4 linked regions of the Homo sapiens genome follow. The protein of the gene in region 2 interacts with the protein of the main gene of each other region in a pairwise test. Each region holds a gene or a part of one and is shown on either strand. Other genes may lie near its edges.

Region 1 (3,798 bases), on a different chromosome or scaffold from region 2:
TGTCCAGAAAATACCAATTTTATACCAACTGCTTAGGGAACAGTAGAATAATTTGATAACCCTGTGCTCTAGATGAGGTCATGTGCAAGCCGCAATTGATAATAAACTAGGGCTTATCTGCTTCCTTTACATGTGGAGAAAATCAGCAATTATACAAGTAGATTTTTTTTTTCTATTTTTTATAGAGATGGGCTTTCACCATGTTGTCCAGACTGGTCTCAAACTCCTGAGCTCAAGTGCTCTGACCGCGTCAGCCTCCCAAAGTGCTGGGATTATAGGTGTGAGTCACCACATCTGGCCAACAACTAGATTTCTAGTAACTAGGTGTGGTAGCTCATGCCTGTAATCCCAGCACTTTGGGAGGCAAAGGCAGGAGGATCACTTGAGGCCAGGAGTTTGAGATTAGTTCCAGCAACATAGCAAGACCCTGACTTCCCCCCGCTCCCCCACAAAAAAAAAAAAAAAAACCCAGAAACTCAGGACTAAATGGTAGCCAGTAGCTCTACTGTCCTATTATTAAAAACACTGTGTTATAACTCTTGACTAATAATTGTGGCTTGTGTCCCAGAGGGCCCCTCCAGTGAGTCCCTTGATGTCTCAATTTTCCTTTGTCTGTAGATTGTGACTCACACACAAAACAGCACTGCAGTGTTCTTCCCAGTTTGTGCTCCTTGCTCTACCTCTGGACTCAGAGAAGAGTGGAATGCATACATAAATGAATGGAGGAGAAAGTAATTGAGGGAAACATCATTGCACAAGTTATTTTGGCAAGAATCTTCCCCTAAACTCATATCTGATGTTTCTCTCATTGAATTGTATTGACTCCAGCTAAAGCCACATCCACTCCCAAAGGTTCTCATGGCCCAGCATATGGAGGAAACTTCAATGCCAACTTCCAGGCTCAATTATATGAAACTATGTGTAACCGCACAAATCTACAGGCTCTCAAAAAATAAACTGGAATGTTCTGGTAGTTAAAAATATGCCCCTACAGTAGTAAAATCTGTTTTGAACTGCTGACATGCACAGGGGCCTGATTTATCATTGCTGCATTGATTAAGGGATAGACTTGGAGGATTTAAGTGAGGTAAATAGAAACTATCAGCACTATTATGATTTTTAACTTATCTGCAAGCTCCACATTTAGAGTGTAGCTAATTGAGATGGCTAGCATAGCAGCCAACTTTTATTCAATGGAAGGTATGTGGCACCTTTCTCTTTCAAGAGACAAGACCTCCCTCTATTACCAAGGCTGGAGTGCAGTATTGCAGCCATTAACTCGCTCCAAGCTCAAACTCCTGGGCTCAAGCGATTCTCCCTCCTCAGCCTCCCAAGTAGTTGGGATTACAGGTATGAGCCACTGCCTAGCTATGGCACCTTTTACTTTACTTGCTTATGTTAAAAACACTTTAATCAAGGCCTTTTCCTTCGGAATAATGAAATATTAAATGTTTCCAGAAACTTCAAGTTGCACTCACAGTTCTTATGGATAGTCTCTAGAAACACATGCTAATTGCCACAAAGCTGGAGCTCTTTAGTAGTGACCTACTAGTTGTAAATTACTGATCACTATACTAGTTGTAAATTAGTAAATCCTCCTGGTTTTAGTTCCATTTTACTGAGTATTCTGCTGCCAGCCAGTCATTCCACTCCACCTGTGTGCACACACATATAACCTTAAGGATGCTTTGTTATCAGTGTTCTCTCAAGTTGGTTGAGATTTATTGCTCGTCTTGCAATTTTACCATAATTATCACCAGTTTAGTTTGCAGTTAAGTTACTGACAATCCCTGCAGTTCAGAATGACAGAATTTACATCAACAAAAATCTAGTCATTTAACTAGATTTTGAAACTCCTAATGATCCAAATGAGTAATTCACACCTATTACTGAAGCAGATGCACACATAATAAAAAACCATGTACCTGTATTGTATTTCATGCCTGCGACTGTTAGTCTCTTGAGTGCATTTTAATTAGACTTCCTTTCCCACTAGTGAAATCCAACGGTAGTCAAGTTTACCACTATCAGGCCTCATATTACTTAAGTACTTTGCAACAGGTAACCCTGTTGACTACTTCCTCCTTCCTAAAACTTTTTCCACCTGACCTCTGGGAGGCCCTCCCTTGGTTCTTACCTCAGGGGCAGTTCCTTCTTTTTTAAAATTTTTAAACTTTTTTCAGATAGTGTCTCACTGCCGCCCAGGCTGGAGTGCAGTGGTATGATCACAGCTCACTGCACCCTCAATCTCTCGGACTCAAGCCATCCTCTCAGCTCAGCCGCCTGAGTAGCTGGGACTACAGATGCCCAATTAATTTTTTTAGGTCTCCCTATGTTGCCCAGGCTGGTCTCAAACTCCTGACCTCAAGCGATCCTCCCCACTCAGCCTCCCAAATTCCTGGGGCTACAGGCATGAGCCATGGTTCCTGGCTAAATTTTAGAGATGGGGTCTCCCTGTGGTGCCCAGGCTGGCCTCTAACAATCCTACCTCAGCCTTCTGAGTACAAGTGCAGTGGGAGCACCTCTTAATTACCTTTGTTGGTTTCTCTTTGTCAACCAATCTCATGTTGGAATGCAGTCTATCCTCTCTCCAAATGACCTTATCCTGTATCATGGCTTTCAATGTCTATTGTTATCTTTCCACTCTCTATATAGTTCTCCAGCTTAGACTTCTCTGAAGAATCAGCATCTCAAACTTAACACATCCAAAACTAACAAAACTAAACTCGACTTCCCACCTCAGTGCCAACTTTCTTCCAAACGCTCAGACCAAAATACTTGTATCAACATTAAATCCATCCTCACCCACCAGCATATCCTGTTGTCTCTATCTTCATTTCCTACCACCTCAGTCTACTACCCTAGACTAAGCCACTATCTTTGCCTTAAAAACACATTATACACAATTATTCTATGCTTTTACCCTGCCACCTGGCAGCCAAAGTGATCCTTTAAAAATTTGAGTCATATCATGTAACTCTTCTGCTCAGAGCGCCTGTGGTTTCCTTGAGGTCTGGTCTTCCTTCCTTGCACACTCCCACTGCTTTACAACCCTTCCTGTCTTCTTGGGTTAGCAAAGTGGCCACTTTTTTCCCAGAACACATCACACTCCAGACTAACTGCTGTTGTCTTGGCCTGGAATGGTTTGTCCTGATATCCACATGGCCTACTTCCACACCTTCATTTGTTTTCAAATGTCACATTACAAGGACCTTCCTAGAAAAGTCCTCTTGCTCCACTCAGTTGTTCTCCACACTTTAACAAACCCTAGGGCCCACAGGCTACTAAAGCATGCCTTTGTTAAACTTAGCATCAAAAACAAAATGTTATGAGCTTTCTGATGTTCACATCCTTATTCTTGCCCAAAACGTCTTGACCCTAGGAATAACGAGAAAAAGATATAAAATGAGACAGTCTTCAAAGTCTGAGAAGATTCTACCTGGAATCTTCAAAGGTTTACCATGAGGTAAACAGCTGGGGTTCATCACTTCTGACTTAAATAGACATGATAAAATGCTATGTCCCAGCCTTGATTGGATCTGGATGTTGGGAAAACAGCTAAGAGCACTGAAAGGACAACTGGGGAAATACCTCTTCTGCAGAACTGAAAATCTTCAAAACAAGTTGGAGCAGTGGAGCCCACAAAGTCTCTGAATTGCTACTTGTCTGTTTCAGGCTTCCAAGGCTAGTTCACCAATTAGCTTCCATCTCTCACCTCAAGGCCTTCTTCACTATCCTGGTTTCCCCAGCTTTGACCACTGCCTGAAAATTCCCTTCCTGCTATCATTTCAGAGGACA
Region 2 (4,691 bases):
AATCCTCCCACTTCAGCCTCTCAAGCAGCTGGGACCACAGACGTGCACCACCATGCCCAGCTAATTGTTTGTATTTTTAGTAGAGATGGGGTTTCACCATATTGCCCAGGCTGGTCTTGAACTCCTAAGCTCAAGTGATCCACCTGCTTCAGCCTCCCAAAGTGCCGGGATTACAGGCGTGAGCCATGGTACCCGGCCAAAAAAATGCTCAAAATAGACAGGGTCTCACCCTCTTGCCCAGGCACTGGTCTCAGACTCTTGGGTTTAAGCAATCCTCTCACCTTGGCCTCCCAGAGTGCTGGGACTGCAGCTGTGAACCCCAGCGCTGGCCTTAAACATGCACATCTTTCAGATGCAATTCTCAGAGCAAAGGGGCTAAAGTGAGCAATGGGTAAGGGATACAAAACACCTTTGGGAAAGAGATGGTAACTGGGTACACATCAGAATAAAGTAAGTCACGGAGGAGAGGTGAGTATGCCTGCAACTCTGCCCCCAGGGCCCATCTGCTACCACTCATTAGGCATTCCCACTCAGGCAAGCACCCAAGCACCAAAACTGATTCCTCCCTTCTGCATGAAGCTTCACCTTTTGGTCATTGTCCTTTCCCATTGCTTAGTTCAACTGAGTACCAGGCACCAAGCTCTCCAGCTACGTATAACACTCATGCCCCTTCACCCGTCTGCCCCCAAGAACCACGGTCCTCCAACAGGTGCTTGGAAAAAAGTCCAAATCAGAGAACTCACCCCTCTCCAATCTTTCCTACACATACATATTACTCCTACTTCAAATAATCTCCATGACATACAATTGGGTCAAATGCCAATACCAGAAAAACCGGTGACTGTTATTTTGTCTGACATTTCCACTTTCTCTAAACAATAACCCCTTTAGTACGAACCATCTTTGCCACTGTAGGTCTTAGCTAAGTATGGAATAAATCAGGATTCCAAGCCCTTCTCGTGTGACTAATACTTTATTAAAGACTGACAGCAATAGTTCTGGCAGTGTGGCTGGGCACTTGAATTTTGGCTCCAGCAGTTACTGTTATCTAACCCTTTGCTACTGTACATGTGGTCACATCAGACCAACAGCATCATTTGGGAGGTTATTAAAAAACGTATCTAGGGGCCAGGTGTAGTGGCTCACTCCTGTAATCCCAGCACTTTGGGAGGCTGAGGCAGGATTGCCTGAGCCCAGGAGTTCAAGGCCAGCCTAAGCAACATGGCAAAACCCCATCTCTACCAAAAAAAAAAAAAAAAAAAAAAAAAAAAATTACAAGAATCAGCCAGGCATGGTGGAACACACCTGTAGTCCTGGCTACTTGGGAGGCTGAGGTGGGAGGATGGCTTAGCCCAGGTCAAGGTGGGGGTGAGCTATGATGGTGCCATTGCACTGCAGCCTGGGAAAGAGACCATCTCAAAGAAAAAAAATTTAAGACGTGTCTGAAGCCTCACCTCAAGCCTATAGAATTAGAACCTGCATTTTGTTTTTAAATTTGAGAGTCAGGGGTCTCCGTCACCCAGGCTGGAATGCAGTGGTGCAATCATGGCTCACTACCTCAACCTCCTTGGGCTCAGGTGGTCCTCCCACCTATAGGCAGGTGCCATCACAGCATGCAAATTTTTGTTTTGGTAGAGATGGGTTTTCACCATGTTGCCCAGGCTGGTCTCGAATTCCTGGGCTCGTGATCCACCCAACTTGGCCTCCCGAAGTGCATGAGCCACCAGGTTGACCCCAAACCTGCATTTTAATATCTACAGGTGATTCACATCCATTTTAGTTAGAGAAGCACTGGCTCAATCTGAACCCGTTTCCTCACTTACAAAATGATTCTATAACCACTTAATTCAGGCCCAAATTAAACAGATAAACCAAGAAGCTGGGCAGTGGCTCATGCCTATAATCAAAACTTTGAGAGGTTGAGGCAGGAGGATCACTTGAAGCCAGTTGAAGACCACCCTGGGCAGCATAGCAAGGCCCCATCTCTACAAGAAATAAAAATAGCTGGGCATGGTGGTGTGCACCTGCAGTCCCCAGCTACTTAGGAGGCTGAAGCAGGAGAATCACATGAGTCCAGGAGCTCGAGGCTGCAATGAGCTATGTATTATCATGCCACTGCACTCCAGCCTGGGTGACAGAGCAAGACCCTCGACTCAGGTGGTTTCATCTACCAGCCTCATACATCCAACTTTAACTGGATCAAGTATTTAAGTCAGCTCGACATTTAAAATGGAAACTTCAATTTTATTAACAATTTACGGCAATAGACATTTACAGAACAAAAATAAGACAGTTCCAAGACAAAGGAGTGTAAAAGTACAGCACACAGGTTAATACTCTTCACCCTCATCCTCTCCGTCAGCACTATCTGCTCCAACCTCCTCATAATCCTTCTCAAGGGCAGCCATGTCCTCACGGGCCTCTGAAAACTCGCCTTCCTCCATCCCCTCACCCACGTACCAGTGAACAAAGGCACGCTTGGCATACATCAGGTCAAACTTGTGGTCCAGGCGAGCCCAGGCCTCGGCAACAGCTGTGGTATTGCTCAGCATGCACACAGCTCTCTGTACCTTGGCCAGGTCTCCGCCAGGCACCACAGTGGGAGGCTGGTAATTAATGCCAACCTTGAAGCCAGTGGGGCACCAATCCACAAACTGGATGGTACGCTTGGTTTTGATGGTGGCAATGGCAGCATTGACATCTTTGGGAACCACGTCACCACGGTATAACAGGCAGCAAGCCATGTATTTACCATGGCGAGGGTCACATTTCACCATCTGGTTGGCTGGCTCAAAGCAAGCATTGGTGATCTCTGCTACAGTAAGCTGTTCGTGGTAGGCTTTCTCAGCAGAGATGACAGGGGCATATGTGGCCAGAGGGAAGTGGATGCGGGGGTAGGGCACCAGGTTGGTCTGGAATTCTGTCAGGTCAACATTCAGGGCTCCATCAAATCTCAGGGAAGCAGTGATGGAGGACACAATCTGGCTAATAAGGCGGTTAAGGTTAGTGTAGGTTGGGCGCTCGATATCGAGGTTTCTACGACAGATGTCATAGATGGCCTCATTGTCTACCATGAAGGCACAATCAGAGTGCTCCAGGGTGGTGTGGGTGGTGAGGATGGAGTTGTAGGGCTCAACTACAGCTGTGGAAACCTGGGGCGCCGGGTAAATGGAGAACTCCAGCTTGGACTTCTTGCCATAATCAACTGAGAGACGTTCCATGAGCAGCGAGGTGAACCCAGAACCAGTTCCCCCACCAAAGCTGTGGAAAACCAAGAAGCCCTGAAGACCGGTGCACTGGTCAGCCTGCAAAATAAAAAAGTTTCATTTTAGTGTTGCGAAAGTTTCATTTAGTGTTCACATTTGGTGAAACCTACAGAGGACTTCTATAAATCTATGGCTACTCCAATTGCAATTTTAAAACTCTTCTGGGCCAGGCGCAGTGGCTCACGCCTGTAATCAACACTTTGGGGGTCCAAGGTGGGAGGACCATTTGCATTTGAGCCCAGGGGTTCAAGACTGATGATCAGGCCACTGCACTCCAGCCTGGATGACAGAGCAGACCCTGTCTCCAAAAAAAAAAAAAAGCTTTTAAGTGCTAAGTGATTCAGAACAACTTTTCACAATCAAGTCCTTGAGCAGAAAAACCTTTGCTAAGACTATTTTAAGATGAACTATTGCCTTAGGCAGAGGAATCACAAGGCCTGGGCTTGCATACAGGGCTCAAGTTTTGGTAACTGGGAAGGCAGCCTCTGGTTCTCTTGCTGTGGCCACAGAACAGGGCAGTTTCTTAGTTGGAGAGGTCCTAAGGGGCAGGCCCAGGACCACCAGCCTGGTACAGTGGATGTCTTGTAAAGATTTGGCAGCTGCTTTCTGAGGTGGAACAACAGAATAGCCAAAGTTCTAACACCCTGGTACTGGAGTCAGGCTGTGTCAGGATCCGGCTGTACCAGTTCCTTACTGTATGACCACATTCATTTCTCAGTTCTTCCACTGATTAAGTGAGAATAGTAATCACCTTAGGTTGAGAATTAAGTAAGTACTCAGCATAGTGCTTGGCACAGTAAGCACAGTATTGGCCCAGTAAGCCAATATATGACACTAGGTACCAAGAAGCCCATTTATTTTGGGTAAAGTGACACAACCACAATTCCATGAGACCTCAGGTTGTTGGGGATTTCCTCCACCTAACTGGGCTATTTTGGTTAGCAAACTGCTACTTTACGAAGGAATGATTTTGACCTTCCAAATAAAGTATTCTGTTGTAAACTCTTGCTTCTCCAAGTGATGGGCCTCAGATTTGTGAACATTCTCTACTCAGCTCCCTTATAGCCTGTGGGTCCATCAACTACATGAGATCAATGCACAGGGCAGACTCTCGCCTACCAATTACACCAGTTAAGCCTCCTGTGAGCACAGTAATGACAAGGACAAATGCAATTGTTTTGGTAGGCAATAAACCTCACGTTCCAGAACCCTAAATAGCTACTAGGTTTATTTGTCCTAAAGGCAGGTCCCTGATTTTCCAAGTCAGTGCTTATAACTAAAGCTTAGGGTTTTTTTTGTTTGTTTGTTTTTTTGAGATGGAGTCTCACTCTGTCGCCCAGGCTGGAGTGCAGTGGCACGATCTCGGCTCACTGCAAGCTCCGCCTCCCGTGTTCACGCCATTCTCCTGCCTCAGCCTCCCTAGTA
Region 3 (4,691 bases), on a different chromosome or scaffold from region 2:
ACAACTTTCTTTCTCTGTAAATTGCCTTTTTTCCTTGGCCAGGTGGAGTGGCTCGCACCTATAATCCCAGCATTTTGGCACGCTGAGGCAGGCCAATGAGCTAGGCATGGTGTGTGTGCCTGTAGTCCCAGCTACTCAGGAGGAGGCTGAGATGGGAGAATCGCTTGAGGCCAGGAGGTCGAGGATGCAGTGAGCCCTGATCACGTCACTGCACTCCAGCCTGGGTGACAGAGGGAGACCCTGTGCCAAAAAAAAAAAAAGAAAAAAAAAAGAGAGACAGGGTGGCCTTGCTGTCTCACCCAGGATGGAGTGCAGCGGTGCAATCATAGCTCACTGCAGCCTTGAAATCCTAGGCTCAAGTGATCCTCCTGCCTCAGCCTCCTCAGTAGCTGAGGTTACAAGTGCTGGCTAATTTTTAAATTTTTTGTAGAGACAGAGTCTTGTTATGTTGCCCACGTTGATATTAAACTCTTGGCCTCAAGTGATCCTCCTGCCTCATCCTCCCAAAGTGCTGGGATTACAGGTGTGAGCCACCATGCCCAGCCATAAACTGCTTTTTTTTCCCCCATAATTCATTTTTCTACAAAGCTGTATTTTTTTAACTGATTTATAGGAGGTTGAAACCCAAAACACCAATAACCAAAGAAGAAACAATACACCTGTCTTAACTGAAAATACTGATAGTTTGTTAATCATGAATTTTTGCACTGATCTGATGTAAAATATTGCATCAAAATATGATGTATCTTGCTTACTAAGGTTTTTGGCAATCTTTTAGATTTGTGCCCCAACTCCCTAGCCTTGGCTCTACTTGTTAAAATTTCACTGAACTATTTTTCAAGTTTGCTGGCATAACCCTCCAAAATTCGGCCTGAAAACTGATCAACTGTCTTAACGGTGATATTACGATTCTCAAAAAAATTTATTTAAACTATTAATGGCCACTAACTAAACTGGCAATTACTTTTATTTAATGCAATCTGGTACTGATTTTCAGAAGACAAGTTACTAAACTTACTCAGCTACAGTTTCTTGCTTAGATGTTTCTTCTCCAGTATTACTGGATACTTCCACACTTTGATCCTGAATAGCAGGGGTACTAGTAAGTTGTGCTTGTTCCTCAGTTGAAATAGTTACTGTATTCTCATTATCTACAACAGTAGCAACAATGGAAGTAACTTCAGGCTCAGGAACAACTGGAACAGTTCCACTGACAGTATTAGAAGCAGAAGTGGAAGCATTAGCATTGGCTGCAGCTGCTGCTGCTGCTGCCGCTGCTGCTGCTGCAACAACAGCAGCTGCTGCTTCGGCAGCAGCCATGGTGCTCATTGTGGTCGGAATTTCTGTTGTAGGGACTGGGGCTGTTGATGTTGTGGTGCACTCTTCTTGCTTACTATACATTAAAAAAAGAGAACACTGGTCATTTCATTATTGTAATCAGAAAGCTAAATAAAGGTAGCTTTAAAATGGTCATAAAATCAAATAATAAGAAAAATAATTGAAGGAAAAAACGGCAAGAAATGCCAAGCCCATTAAAAAAGATTTTAAAACCACAGAATGTAACTGTACTACTTTAATTCCGTTAACATTCATGGTAATGTATTACAGGCACTCAAAAGTTCAGTAAGCGTTCACATTTATAAAATACCCAATCTATCAGACTGTATTTACACCACGAAAAATGACCTGTATTAGAAAGTTCTCTAAGAACTTTAAATTTTCTCCAGTTTGCCCATTTAGAGGAAACCCTATATAAAGGAAGAGATACACAGATATATTTCGTCCATTCCCTAATCAACTCAAACGGAATTTGGGACTCTTCTGTAACACAGTCTTCTTAATTTGTTAAGGGATACAGTCCAAATTCTAATAATTACTGTATAGCAAAACATCAAATTGAGTAAATATCCCCCTCCCTAATTTTTCCTCAACAAAATGCTACAAGGACATCAAAATATCAAGCCTAACATGTTAATTATTTGTATTATGAAAATTGAGAAAACACAAGGATATCATAGGAGAGACCAAATTTGTAAATAAAAATTGATGTCCAAAATTGCTTACCTGCTTTCTTCAGCTTTGATCATTGCTATTAAAGAGAGAAAAAAAGTCATCTACTAGTTTTAAAATATAATCACTGAAAACAAACTTTAAAAGAAGATAAAGTATCATACAATAGGATTTCATTTACCATCCTAAAAAATAAAAAATCACTTTTACAGAACAAATTCTTGCTCCGAAAGTCTAGTATAGCAAATAAAGAATACAACAAACTTAAATAACAGTAATTACTAGGAAAGCTTATTCCATGCTGCTGCTTTCCCAAAGGCTGCTGCAACAACTCTATGAAAGTATCTGCATAATTCTGGATGAAAACTGTATTTTCTTCAGGGATGAGACTAGTTTGATATATTTTTAAGATACTAAATTCAAAATGGGATCAAATTTATTATAAAATTCCAGCACATATATACTAGCATTGACAAGTAGATAGATAGTTACGCACACCAACTATTTGTAGTAGGGTTATATCAGAAATGAGCTTGATAATTCATAAATGATCAACTGGGAATCTACCTATCTACAATATTATTATTAGCCAATGCTAGTATAGGTAACTTAAACTGAGCTTTAAAGATCTGCACAATTTCATTTTTCATTCCAGTACATTTTCCTTTGGATGTAACAAAAATACCTTTTATTTAACATTACTAGGGAATGAGGTTCTCCACATTAAGTAATAATACAAGCCTAACTCTTTATAAAAAAAATTTTTAAAACTTATCACCCTTTAAAGAAAAACATTTCTGAAAATCTGTTTAGGATGGCTGAAAAAACATACTTACAAAGTTATCATTAATAATATAAATTAACATTTTTCTGATACAATGATGATCTATCTATCTAATGAGGTGGCACAAGGAAAAGGTAAAGGGGCTTAATATGACAGTCTTTTAGGAAATTTTTATTCTCTTTTCCTGCCAGATGTCATTCCACATCACTATCTACTTTATTAGCCCCATTCTCCTACAATCTGCTGCTTCTAGTTTTGTATAATTTATGACACTAGATTCTATTAGAAGTGAGTATAAAAACTAGATTTTCAATCCTTACTTATTATCTCTATTTTAAGTCTTAGGTTTTATATTTAGTATTAAGTATTTCTAGATTTTTAAGGGTTATTCTGATTAGTTCCAATGTTGAAAAATTTTCCCTTTATAAGTAAGGCATGATACTTGGTTTACCTTAATTCTTCCATAAAGAACATATCAAGGCTATTTTGCAACACTGTGCTAAACAAAACTAGCATTAAATATATAGTCTGACAATATACTAACAAAATATAAATGGATACAGATTCAAGGTTCTCCACTATCTATTACCATGAAATGAGTTAAAACACATGTTCTATGTATGCACCACTCATAGTAGGACTTGGAAATTTTGTATATGAACTCCTTGTTCAATTGAATGATAAACGATCTTTTTTCTAAAAACCAAAGTACGACTTTAAAAGCTACAAGCTCATTTATAATATAACCCTTTAATGAAAAGAATTCTTAGAGATTTTTCACTGCAGATTTATCCAATTATGGTTAGTGAATATTAGTGACATACTCTAATAAAAATGTTAAGTATGACAGAAAATGAATTATCAAAGCAGCTCACCATGCAGGTTTGATTTTGTAATAAGACTTCCAGCAACAATGGTATTCTGGTATCCTAGTTTCAGTGGAATCAAATCAAATAAAAATCTATTTAAAATCTACAGAACTGAGATCTAAAGCAACAAGAAAATAAGAGCCCAAAAAACTGTTATACGCCATTTTAAATGTTCTAATCATTTAATTAAAAAAAAAAATAAGGCCTTTGTTTGAACAATCCTATTCTGGAGGAATTGTTTCAAAGTGAATGGCATATATATGTAAAACATATACATTGAAAACTACTTTTCCCCATTTTACCTTCAAGATCCTCAAGTTCTTTAGGTTTGGCCCAGCGAGATTCTTTTGTTTGAGAATTATAATAGTAAGGCTTTCCAGAATCTGATTTGTATTCCTTCCAGGGGCATTTAGATAAGAGTTGCTGAAAAGGAAAAAACTGTTTGTTAATAATAATATATTTAACATCACTGATCATTTACATGGCTGTTTTCACTAGAAATTACCAATTGATACAATTCTAAAACTCGTGAGATGATGGTAATAATATAAACTATCAATTATTGAATATTCACTGAGTGATGCCATTTGAATACATTATTTAATCTTTATAACACTGCAAAATGTGTAACATAATTCTGTATCTAGGGACTGTTACTTGAAGTCAGAAAGTAACTTGTTTAAGGTAATATACTCATTAAAAAGCAGAGACAAGATTCAAAACCAGTTCTATATGAATTTCAAATCCTATTTACTGTAACCATTCACACCCCATTATAGGTCAAGATTATCATCCACATTTTTTTTTTTTTTTTTTTTTGAGACGGAGTCTCGCTTTGTCACCCAGGCTGGAGTACAGTAGCTCGACCTCGGCTCACTGCAAGCTCCGCCTCTCGGGTTCACGCCATTCTCCTGCCTCAGCCTCTCTGAGTAGCTGGGACTACAGGCGCCCGCCACCACGCCCAGCTAATTTTTTGTATTTTTTTTTAGTAGAGACGGGGTTTCACCGTGGTCTCGAACTCCTGACCT
Region 4 (4,691 bases), on a different chromosome or scaffold from region 2:
CCAATTCTGTCTTCTCAGCCTGGCCAAGCTTTTCTTCTGTGAACTGTTATTGATTGTAAAACAAAAATTAAATATACTGCAAATAAATTTTAGGGAACCATATCAATAAGTAAAAAGCAAATTCAAAGCTAAACAATCCTAAACATACAAATAACCATGCTCCAGCTTTGTAAGCCATTGCTTATGAATACTTTTTTTTGCTCCTATGGTAATTTATCCATACTTCTTTTGTGGATGACCCTACCTTACAGTCATCACATACCCTTAGTTCTGCTAAAATGTATGGTGTGAATTCTACAGAAAACCTAAGTATACTTCTTGGTATATAAAGCATGCAACTATTTCAACTACCTATCCTAGGTAGACTAGGATAACGGTAAAGAGTAAGAGCTTTGAGTCAGTTGAATCTGAATTCAAATCTTAACTTTGTTCCTTGCTGTGTGAGCTGAGCAATGTATTGAATATTTTTTCTTTAGTACCCTCTATTATAAAAGAGAGACAATACATATTTTATAGTGTTTGGGGGATTAAGTATGATTGTGTATGCAAATCACTTTGTTTGGTGCCTTGTAATTATTAAGTTTTGAAAGAGCTGTTAATGTTTATTGTGGTTTATGTCTTATTAGCACTTTAATCACACCTAGTTAGATAAATAGTTTCCCAGAACATACCATAAAACCTGTCATTTAAGCTGCTGAGGATATGTTCCAGCAATTTATTTATAGACTAACTTTTGGAACATATCCTATTCATACTATGAAGACATCTTTTAAAGGTCATAAAATGTGGTTAAACGTACTCAATGAATCAATTTTTATTATTGAATATACTGGTATTTGAGAAAAGGTAGCACTGCCTATATAATAATAAAGCAGTAAAAAGATTCTGTGTAGATCTACAGCCTTCTGGATACTTTTAATTAAACATTAGAGGTGATGACTCAAGCTGTTTATCATGCATCATTTTCCTCTAGAATATGTGGCTTCCTCCCATCTTAACACAGGTATATCACTAGCATTAATTCTGTGCTCAGTAATGACTCACTTCTGGCTGACAAAACAGTGTTCACCTTGCCTTTCTCTCCTTTCGTTTCTCAAAAATCTCGTTTGCTACTCTATTTTCTGAGTTTTATTGTTTCTTTCAGCATCCTTCTTCTTGGTTTAATACTTTCAGGTTATTATCAACACCTTAAGCTGAAGGATCCTCTAGAATTCTATTCTTAGACTTCTGGTTACAATCTCCACTGAGGCTCCTGTTTAGGGGCTAGAAATAACAGCTTAAATAGCTTTTGTAAAGCCTTGGGTCTTTTTGAGAATGGTCTATAGCCAGCCCCTGACCTAGTGGGTAGAACCAAAAATAGCAGTTACAAAGCTATTGCCTAAGCCCATAAACTTGCAGTGTAGCTGGAGGACTGGGCACTGAGCAAAAGCAAACCCTGATCCCAAGGCCAGCTGGATAAACTATGCAACCTCATTCTTAACAGAGAACCCCGTAGTCTTTACAGATCCCTGAAGATTCTAAGCAACAGACCTCCTACTAGACTTTTACATGTTCAAAGTCTACCACCAATGGCTAGATAAAATAACTCCCAGATAAAGTGACCAATAGGAAGGGAAGAAAGGGAATACCTTTCACTCAGGTGAACATCACCTATAAAGAGTGATCTAAAAAAAATTCACTTAGCCCCTTAAAAATTGAAACTGCATGCATAAATTTCCCTTTAATAAGCAAGTTTATCCATTTGTTTGTTCATTTTGTTTATTCCTTCAACAAATACTTATTAAGCACCTACATATGTGCTAGGCACTCTTCTAAACACATGGGTTTCAGCAGCCAACAAAACATATAAGGTTTCTGTTCTTAGGAAGCTTACATTTTAATGGCAAAGACAGACAATAGATAAATAAATAATCTGATAATAAGGATATAAAGATATGAAGATGGTAAAGCGGACCAACATGGTTGGTTTGTTTCTGAGTGACATACAAATCCAAGTACAGAGAAAGAATTCATTCTTCAGGGAGAGGAAGAGGGAGAGCAGGAGAATCAGGGAAGGCTTCAGTGGGGGAGGGATGGGCAACTTGGGCCTAGAAAGGGGAGCAGGAGTTTGAGGAGTGTGAGATGCGGGTAGTTAGAGAAACAGCATCTCTGAGTAGGTAACAAACGACCTGTGACTGAATGATATGAACTATGTTAAGATCTAAGGAAAGAGTGTATAGTCCTGATGATTTATCTTCCAGTTGCACAATTTCTTTAAGCTCATTAGCATCACCCTCACACATATTAAATATTAATTTCTCTGTGGAAATCCTTAACTTATAGTTAATAACCAAGAATAGATTAATAGAAAAATCAACAGATCAATAATTCAAAATCAGTACTTATGGCCAGGAGCAGGGGCCCCCGCCTGTAATGTCAGCACTTTGGGAGGCTGAGGCAGGCAGATCACTTGAGCTCAGGAGTTCTAGACCAGCCTAGGCAACATGGCGAAACCACGTCTCTACAAAAAAATCCAAAAAATTAGCCAGGTATGGTGGTGCACACCTGTAGTCCCAGCTGCACTCCACTGCACTCCATTCTGGGTGACACAGCAAGACCCTATCTCTAATTAATAAGTTAATAATAAAATAAATAAATATAAAATAAAATAGTCACTGAATTTATCTGATACAAACTGGGGTTCAGGGCAAGTTTTCTCCCGACAGTATTTCAGGAAAATCAGCAATTAGAAAGTTAATTATTTGGAAAATAAAACACTTCAATCTTCAGGTAAAAAGGCCTGTTTGCTTAATTATTTAACATTTTCTTTGTGACTCTCATGATACTACCTCCCAGGTATCTCAATAAATATATATTCTTTTTGAAAAGAGTATGAAAGTATAACAGAGCAAAGATGGGTATTTGCACCAAGTGATTTATTTGTATGAGTCTGAGGAAGAAAGAAAATATGTTAACTGATAAAGATTCTACAAACACACACAATTAGTAGGTTTTTTTTTTTTAACTATTTTAGTTCAGAAGATACATGGAACCCTTACACATGAGTGAGACAGTCTAATTACAGAAAACCTGTTTAGAAAATAGCAGTACTGTAGGGTCACATGACAATGTTTCTATGTTTCACATTTCAGCACATCCATTTACATCTTTCTCATACTTCTGTGTCAAGGCTTAGTGTATGTTCAAAAATTCCATTAACTAAGCTGTGCATTCTACAACAAATACTCGAAAGAATCTTAAAATAAAGTAAGAATAATTGTAGAGATTAATAAATTGAGACTCAGGGTGATTAAACACTTTGTCCAAGGTGTCATTGTTGGGATTCAATCTCACATCTGTTTGAGTCATAGTCTTATCATGCTATACTACCCTTCCAGTAAATACTTGCTGATTTCCAAAATTAGTATTTTCTATTTCTATTACTATTATCCAATCATATTCTGTGCTTCCTTTCTCCTATGTCTGTTCGCAGCACTCTGGACAGCTTTCTCCCCCAGATCACTTCTGCTTTCTACAAGATATTCAATAATTATTCACCAAAATTAGTAAACTAAATCCTATCATGAATGAATAAAAGGGAGGAAGACACACAATAAGGACATTGCTAATGCTATCATATTTTAAAATTGAAATTATAAATTTAAATCTTATTACTTAAATATATAATTGTAAAAGACATAATATTTCCCAAATTTTATCATTGGTGGAAGCAAAAGGATTTTTCCATAATTAATCAGAAGTACACTTTATTAAGATAACAAATACAATATTTAATACATTTTCTCTAAAGCACTGTAAATAATGCGTCTACTACAGACACTAGGAGTCATCTCAACTAAATTAATATTTAAATTACTAATCAAAAATATTTATGGCTTCTACAGCAAGATGATCAGCATCTGATGTACTTCTTGCCCTCAAGGATTTTATGATCTACTAGGAGAATACTGCCTTGACTCAAACAAAATTATAATAATGGCACCTTTTCAGAAGGGCAAAAGACCTATTAATTCTTTCTTTTAAAAAAAGATCCCTTTCCTAGTTACCAAAAAATTTTAAATTAACCCATAAAAATTTTAGTTTTCAACATCTTCAAGTCAAAAATCATTACTGATTTTGTAATCTCTTGATAATAGGTATTAATGAGAAACTAGTTGATTTTAAGCATATCTTTTAATGAATAGATGGCAGTATAGTTTAATAATTAAGAACTTTTGTGTAAACAACCTAAAATAAAAGGCAAACTGTAAATAAGCATCTTCTTAGTAAGTCATTAAACTCAATGTTTTCTAAAATATAATTTGATACCTAATTTTTTCATATTTCATTTGTAATATGGCAAAGTGGCATAAGAATAAAAGTTTAATCCCCTTTTATATATTTTCTCTAAATATTGCTTTGCGGAAAGAATTGTCTTTGAGTCGGCTACATTATACCAGGCACTGTAATCCTTCTTTTACTACAGGATAGGCATATAACCCACATTATTAAATAAGGAGCCTGGATTCCAAACTCTACTTTTAGAAAAAAAAAAGACTACAAATAAAATGGGTGTGTGATCAAAGACATCTATTTAATGCAAACTCTAATCACCAGTATTACTAAAGGGTAATACTCTAAAAGTAATTTAAATTTCTTGGAAAATATGTAACACAGATTCTGAATAATGTATTAGTAAACTGTAAGGTGCA

The links.
Region 1: the proteins of TUBA1C (region 2) and TPT1 interact in binary tests that used the Homo sapiens proteins (3 or more experiments, as listed by UniProt).
Region 3: the proteins of TUBA1C (region 2) and PRPF40A interact in binary tests that used the Homo sapiens proteins (3 or more experiments, as listed by UniProt).
Region 4: the proteins of TUBA1C (region 2) and SH3GLB1 interact in binary tests that used the Homo sapiens proteins (3 or more experiments, as listed by UniProt).

Annotation. Positions count from the first base shown.
Region 1 is NC_000013.11:45,331,780-45,335,577, forward strand, and holds the end of TPT1 (translationally-controlled tumor protein), read right to left. Parts: 3' UTR 1,692-3,798; downstream 1-1,691. UniProt on the Homo sapiens protein: Involved in calcium binding and microtubule stabilization. Acts as a negative regulator of TSC22D1-mediated apoptosis, via interaction with and destabilization of TSC22D1 protein.
Region 2 is NC_000012.12:49,270,867-49,275,557, reverse strand, and holds the end of TUBA1C (tubulin alpha-1C chain), read right to left. Parts: intron 3,306-4,691; coding exon 2,331-3,305; 3' UTR 958-2,330; downstream 1-957. UniProt on the Homo sapiens protein: Tubulin is the major constituent of microtubules, a cylinder consisting of laterally associated linear protofilaments composed of alpha- and beta-tubulin heterodimers.
Region 3 is NC_000002.12:152,675,387-152,680,077, forward strand, and holds part of PRPF40A (pre-mRNA-processing factor 40 homolog A), read right to left. Parts: intron 4,087-4,691; coding exon 3,966-4,086; intron 3,724-3,965; coding exon 3,670-3,723; intron 2,090-3,669; coding exon 2,065-2,089; intron 1,394-2,064; coding exon 1,019-1,393; intron 1-1,018.
Region 4 is NC_000001.11:86,711,076-86,715,766, reverse strand, and holds part of SH3GLB1 (endophilin-B1), read right to left. Parts: intron 44-4,691; coding exon 1-43. UniProt on the Homo sapiens protein: May be required for normal outer mitochondrial membrane dynamics. Required for coatomer-mediated retrograde transport in certain cells. May recruit other proteins to membranes with high curvature. May promote membrane fusion.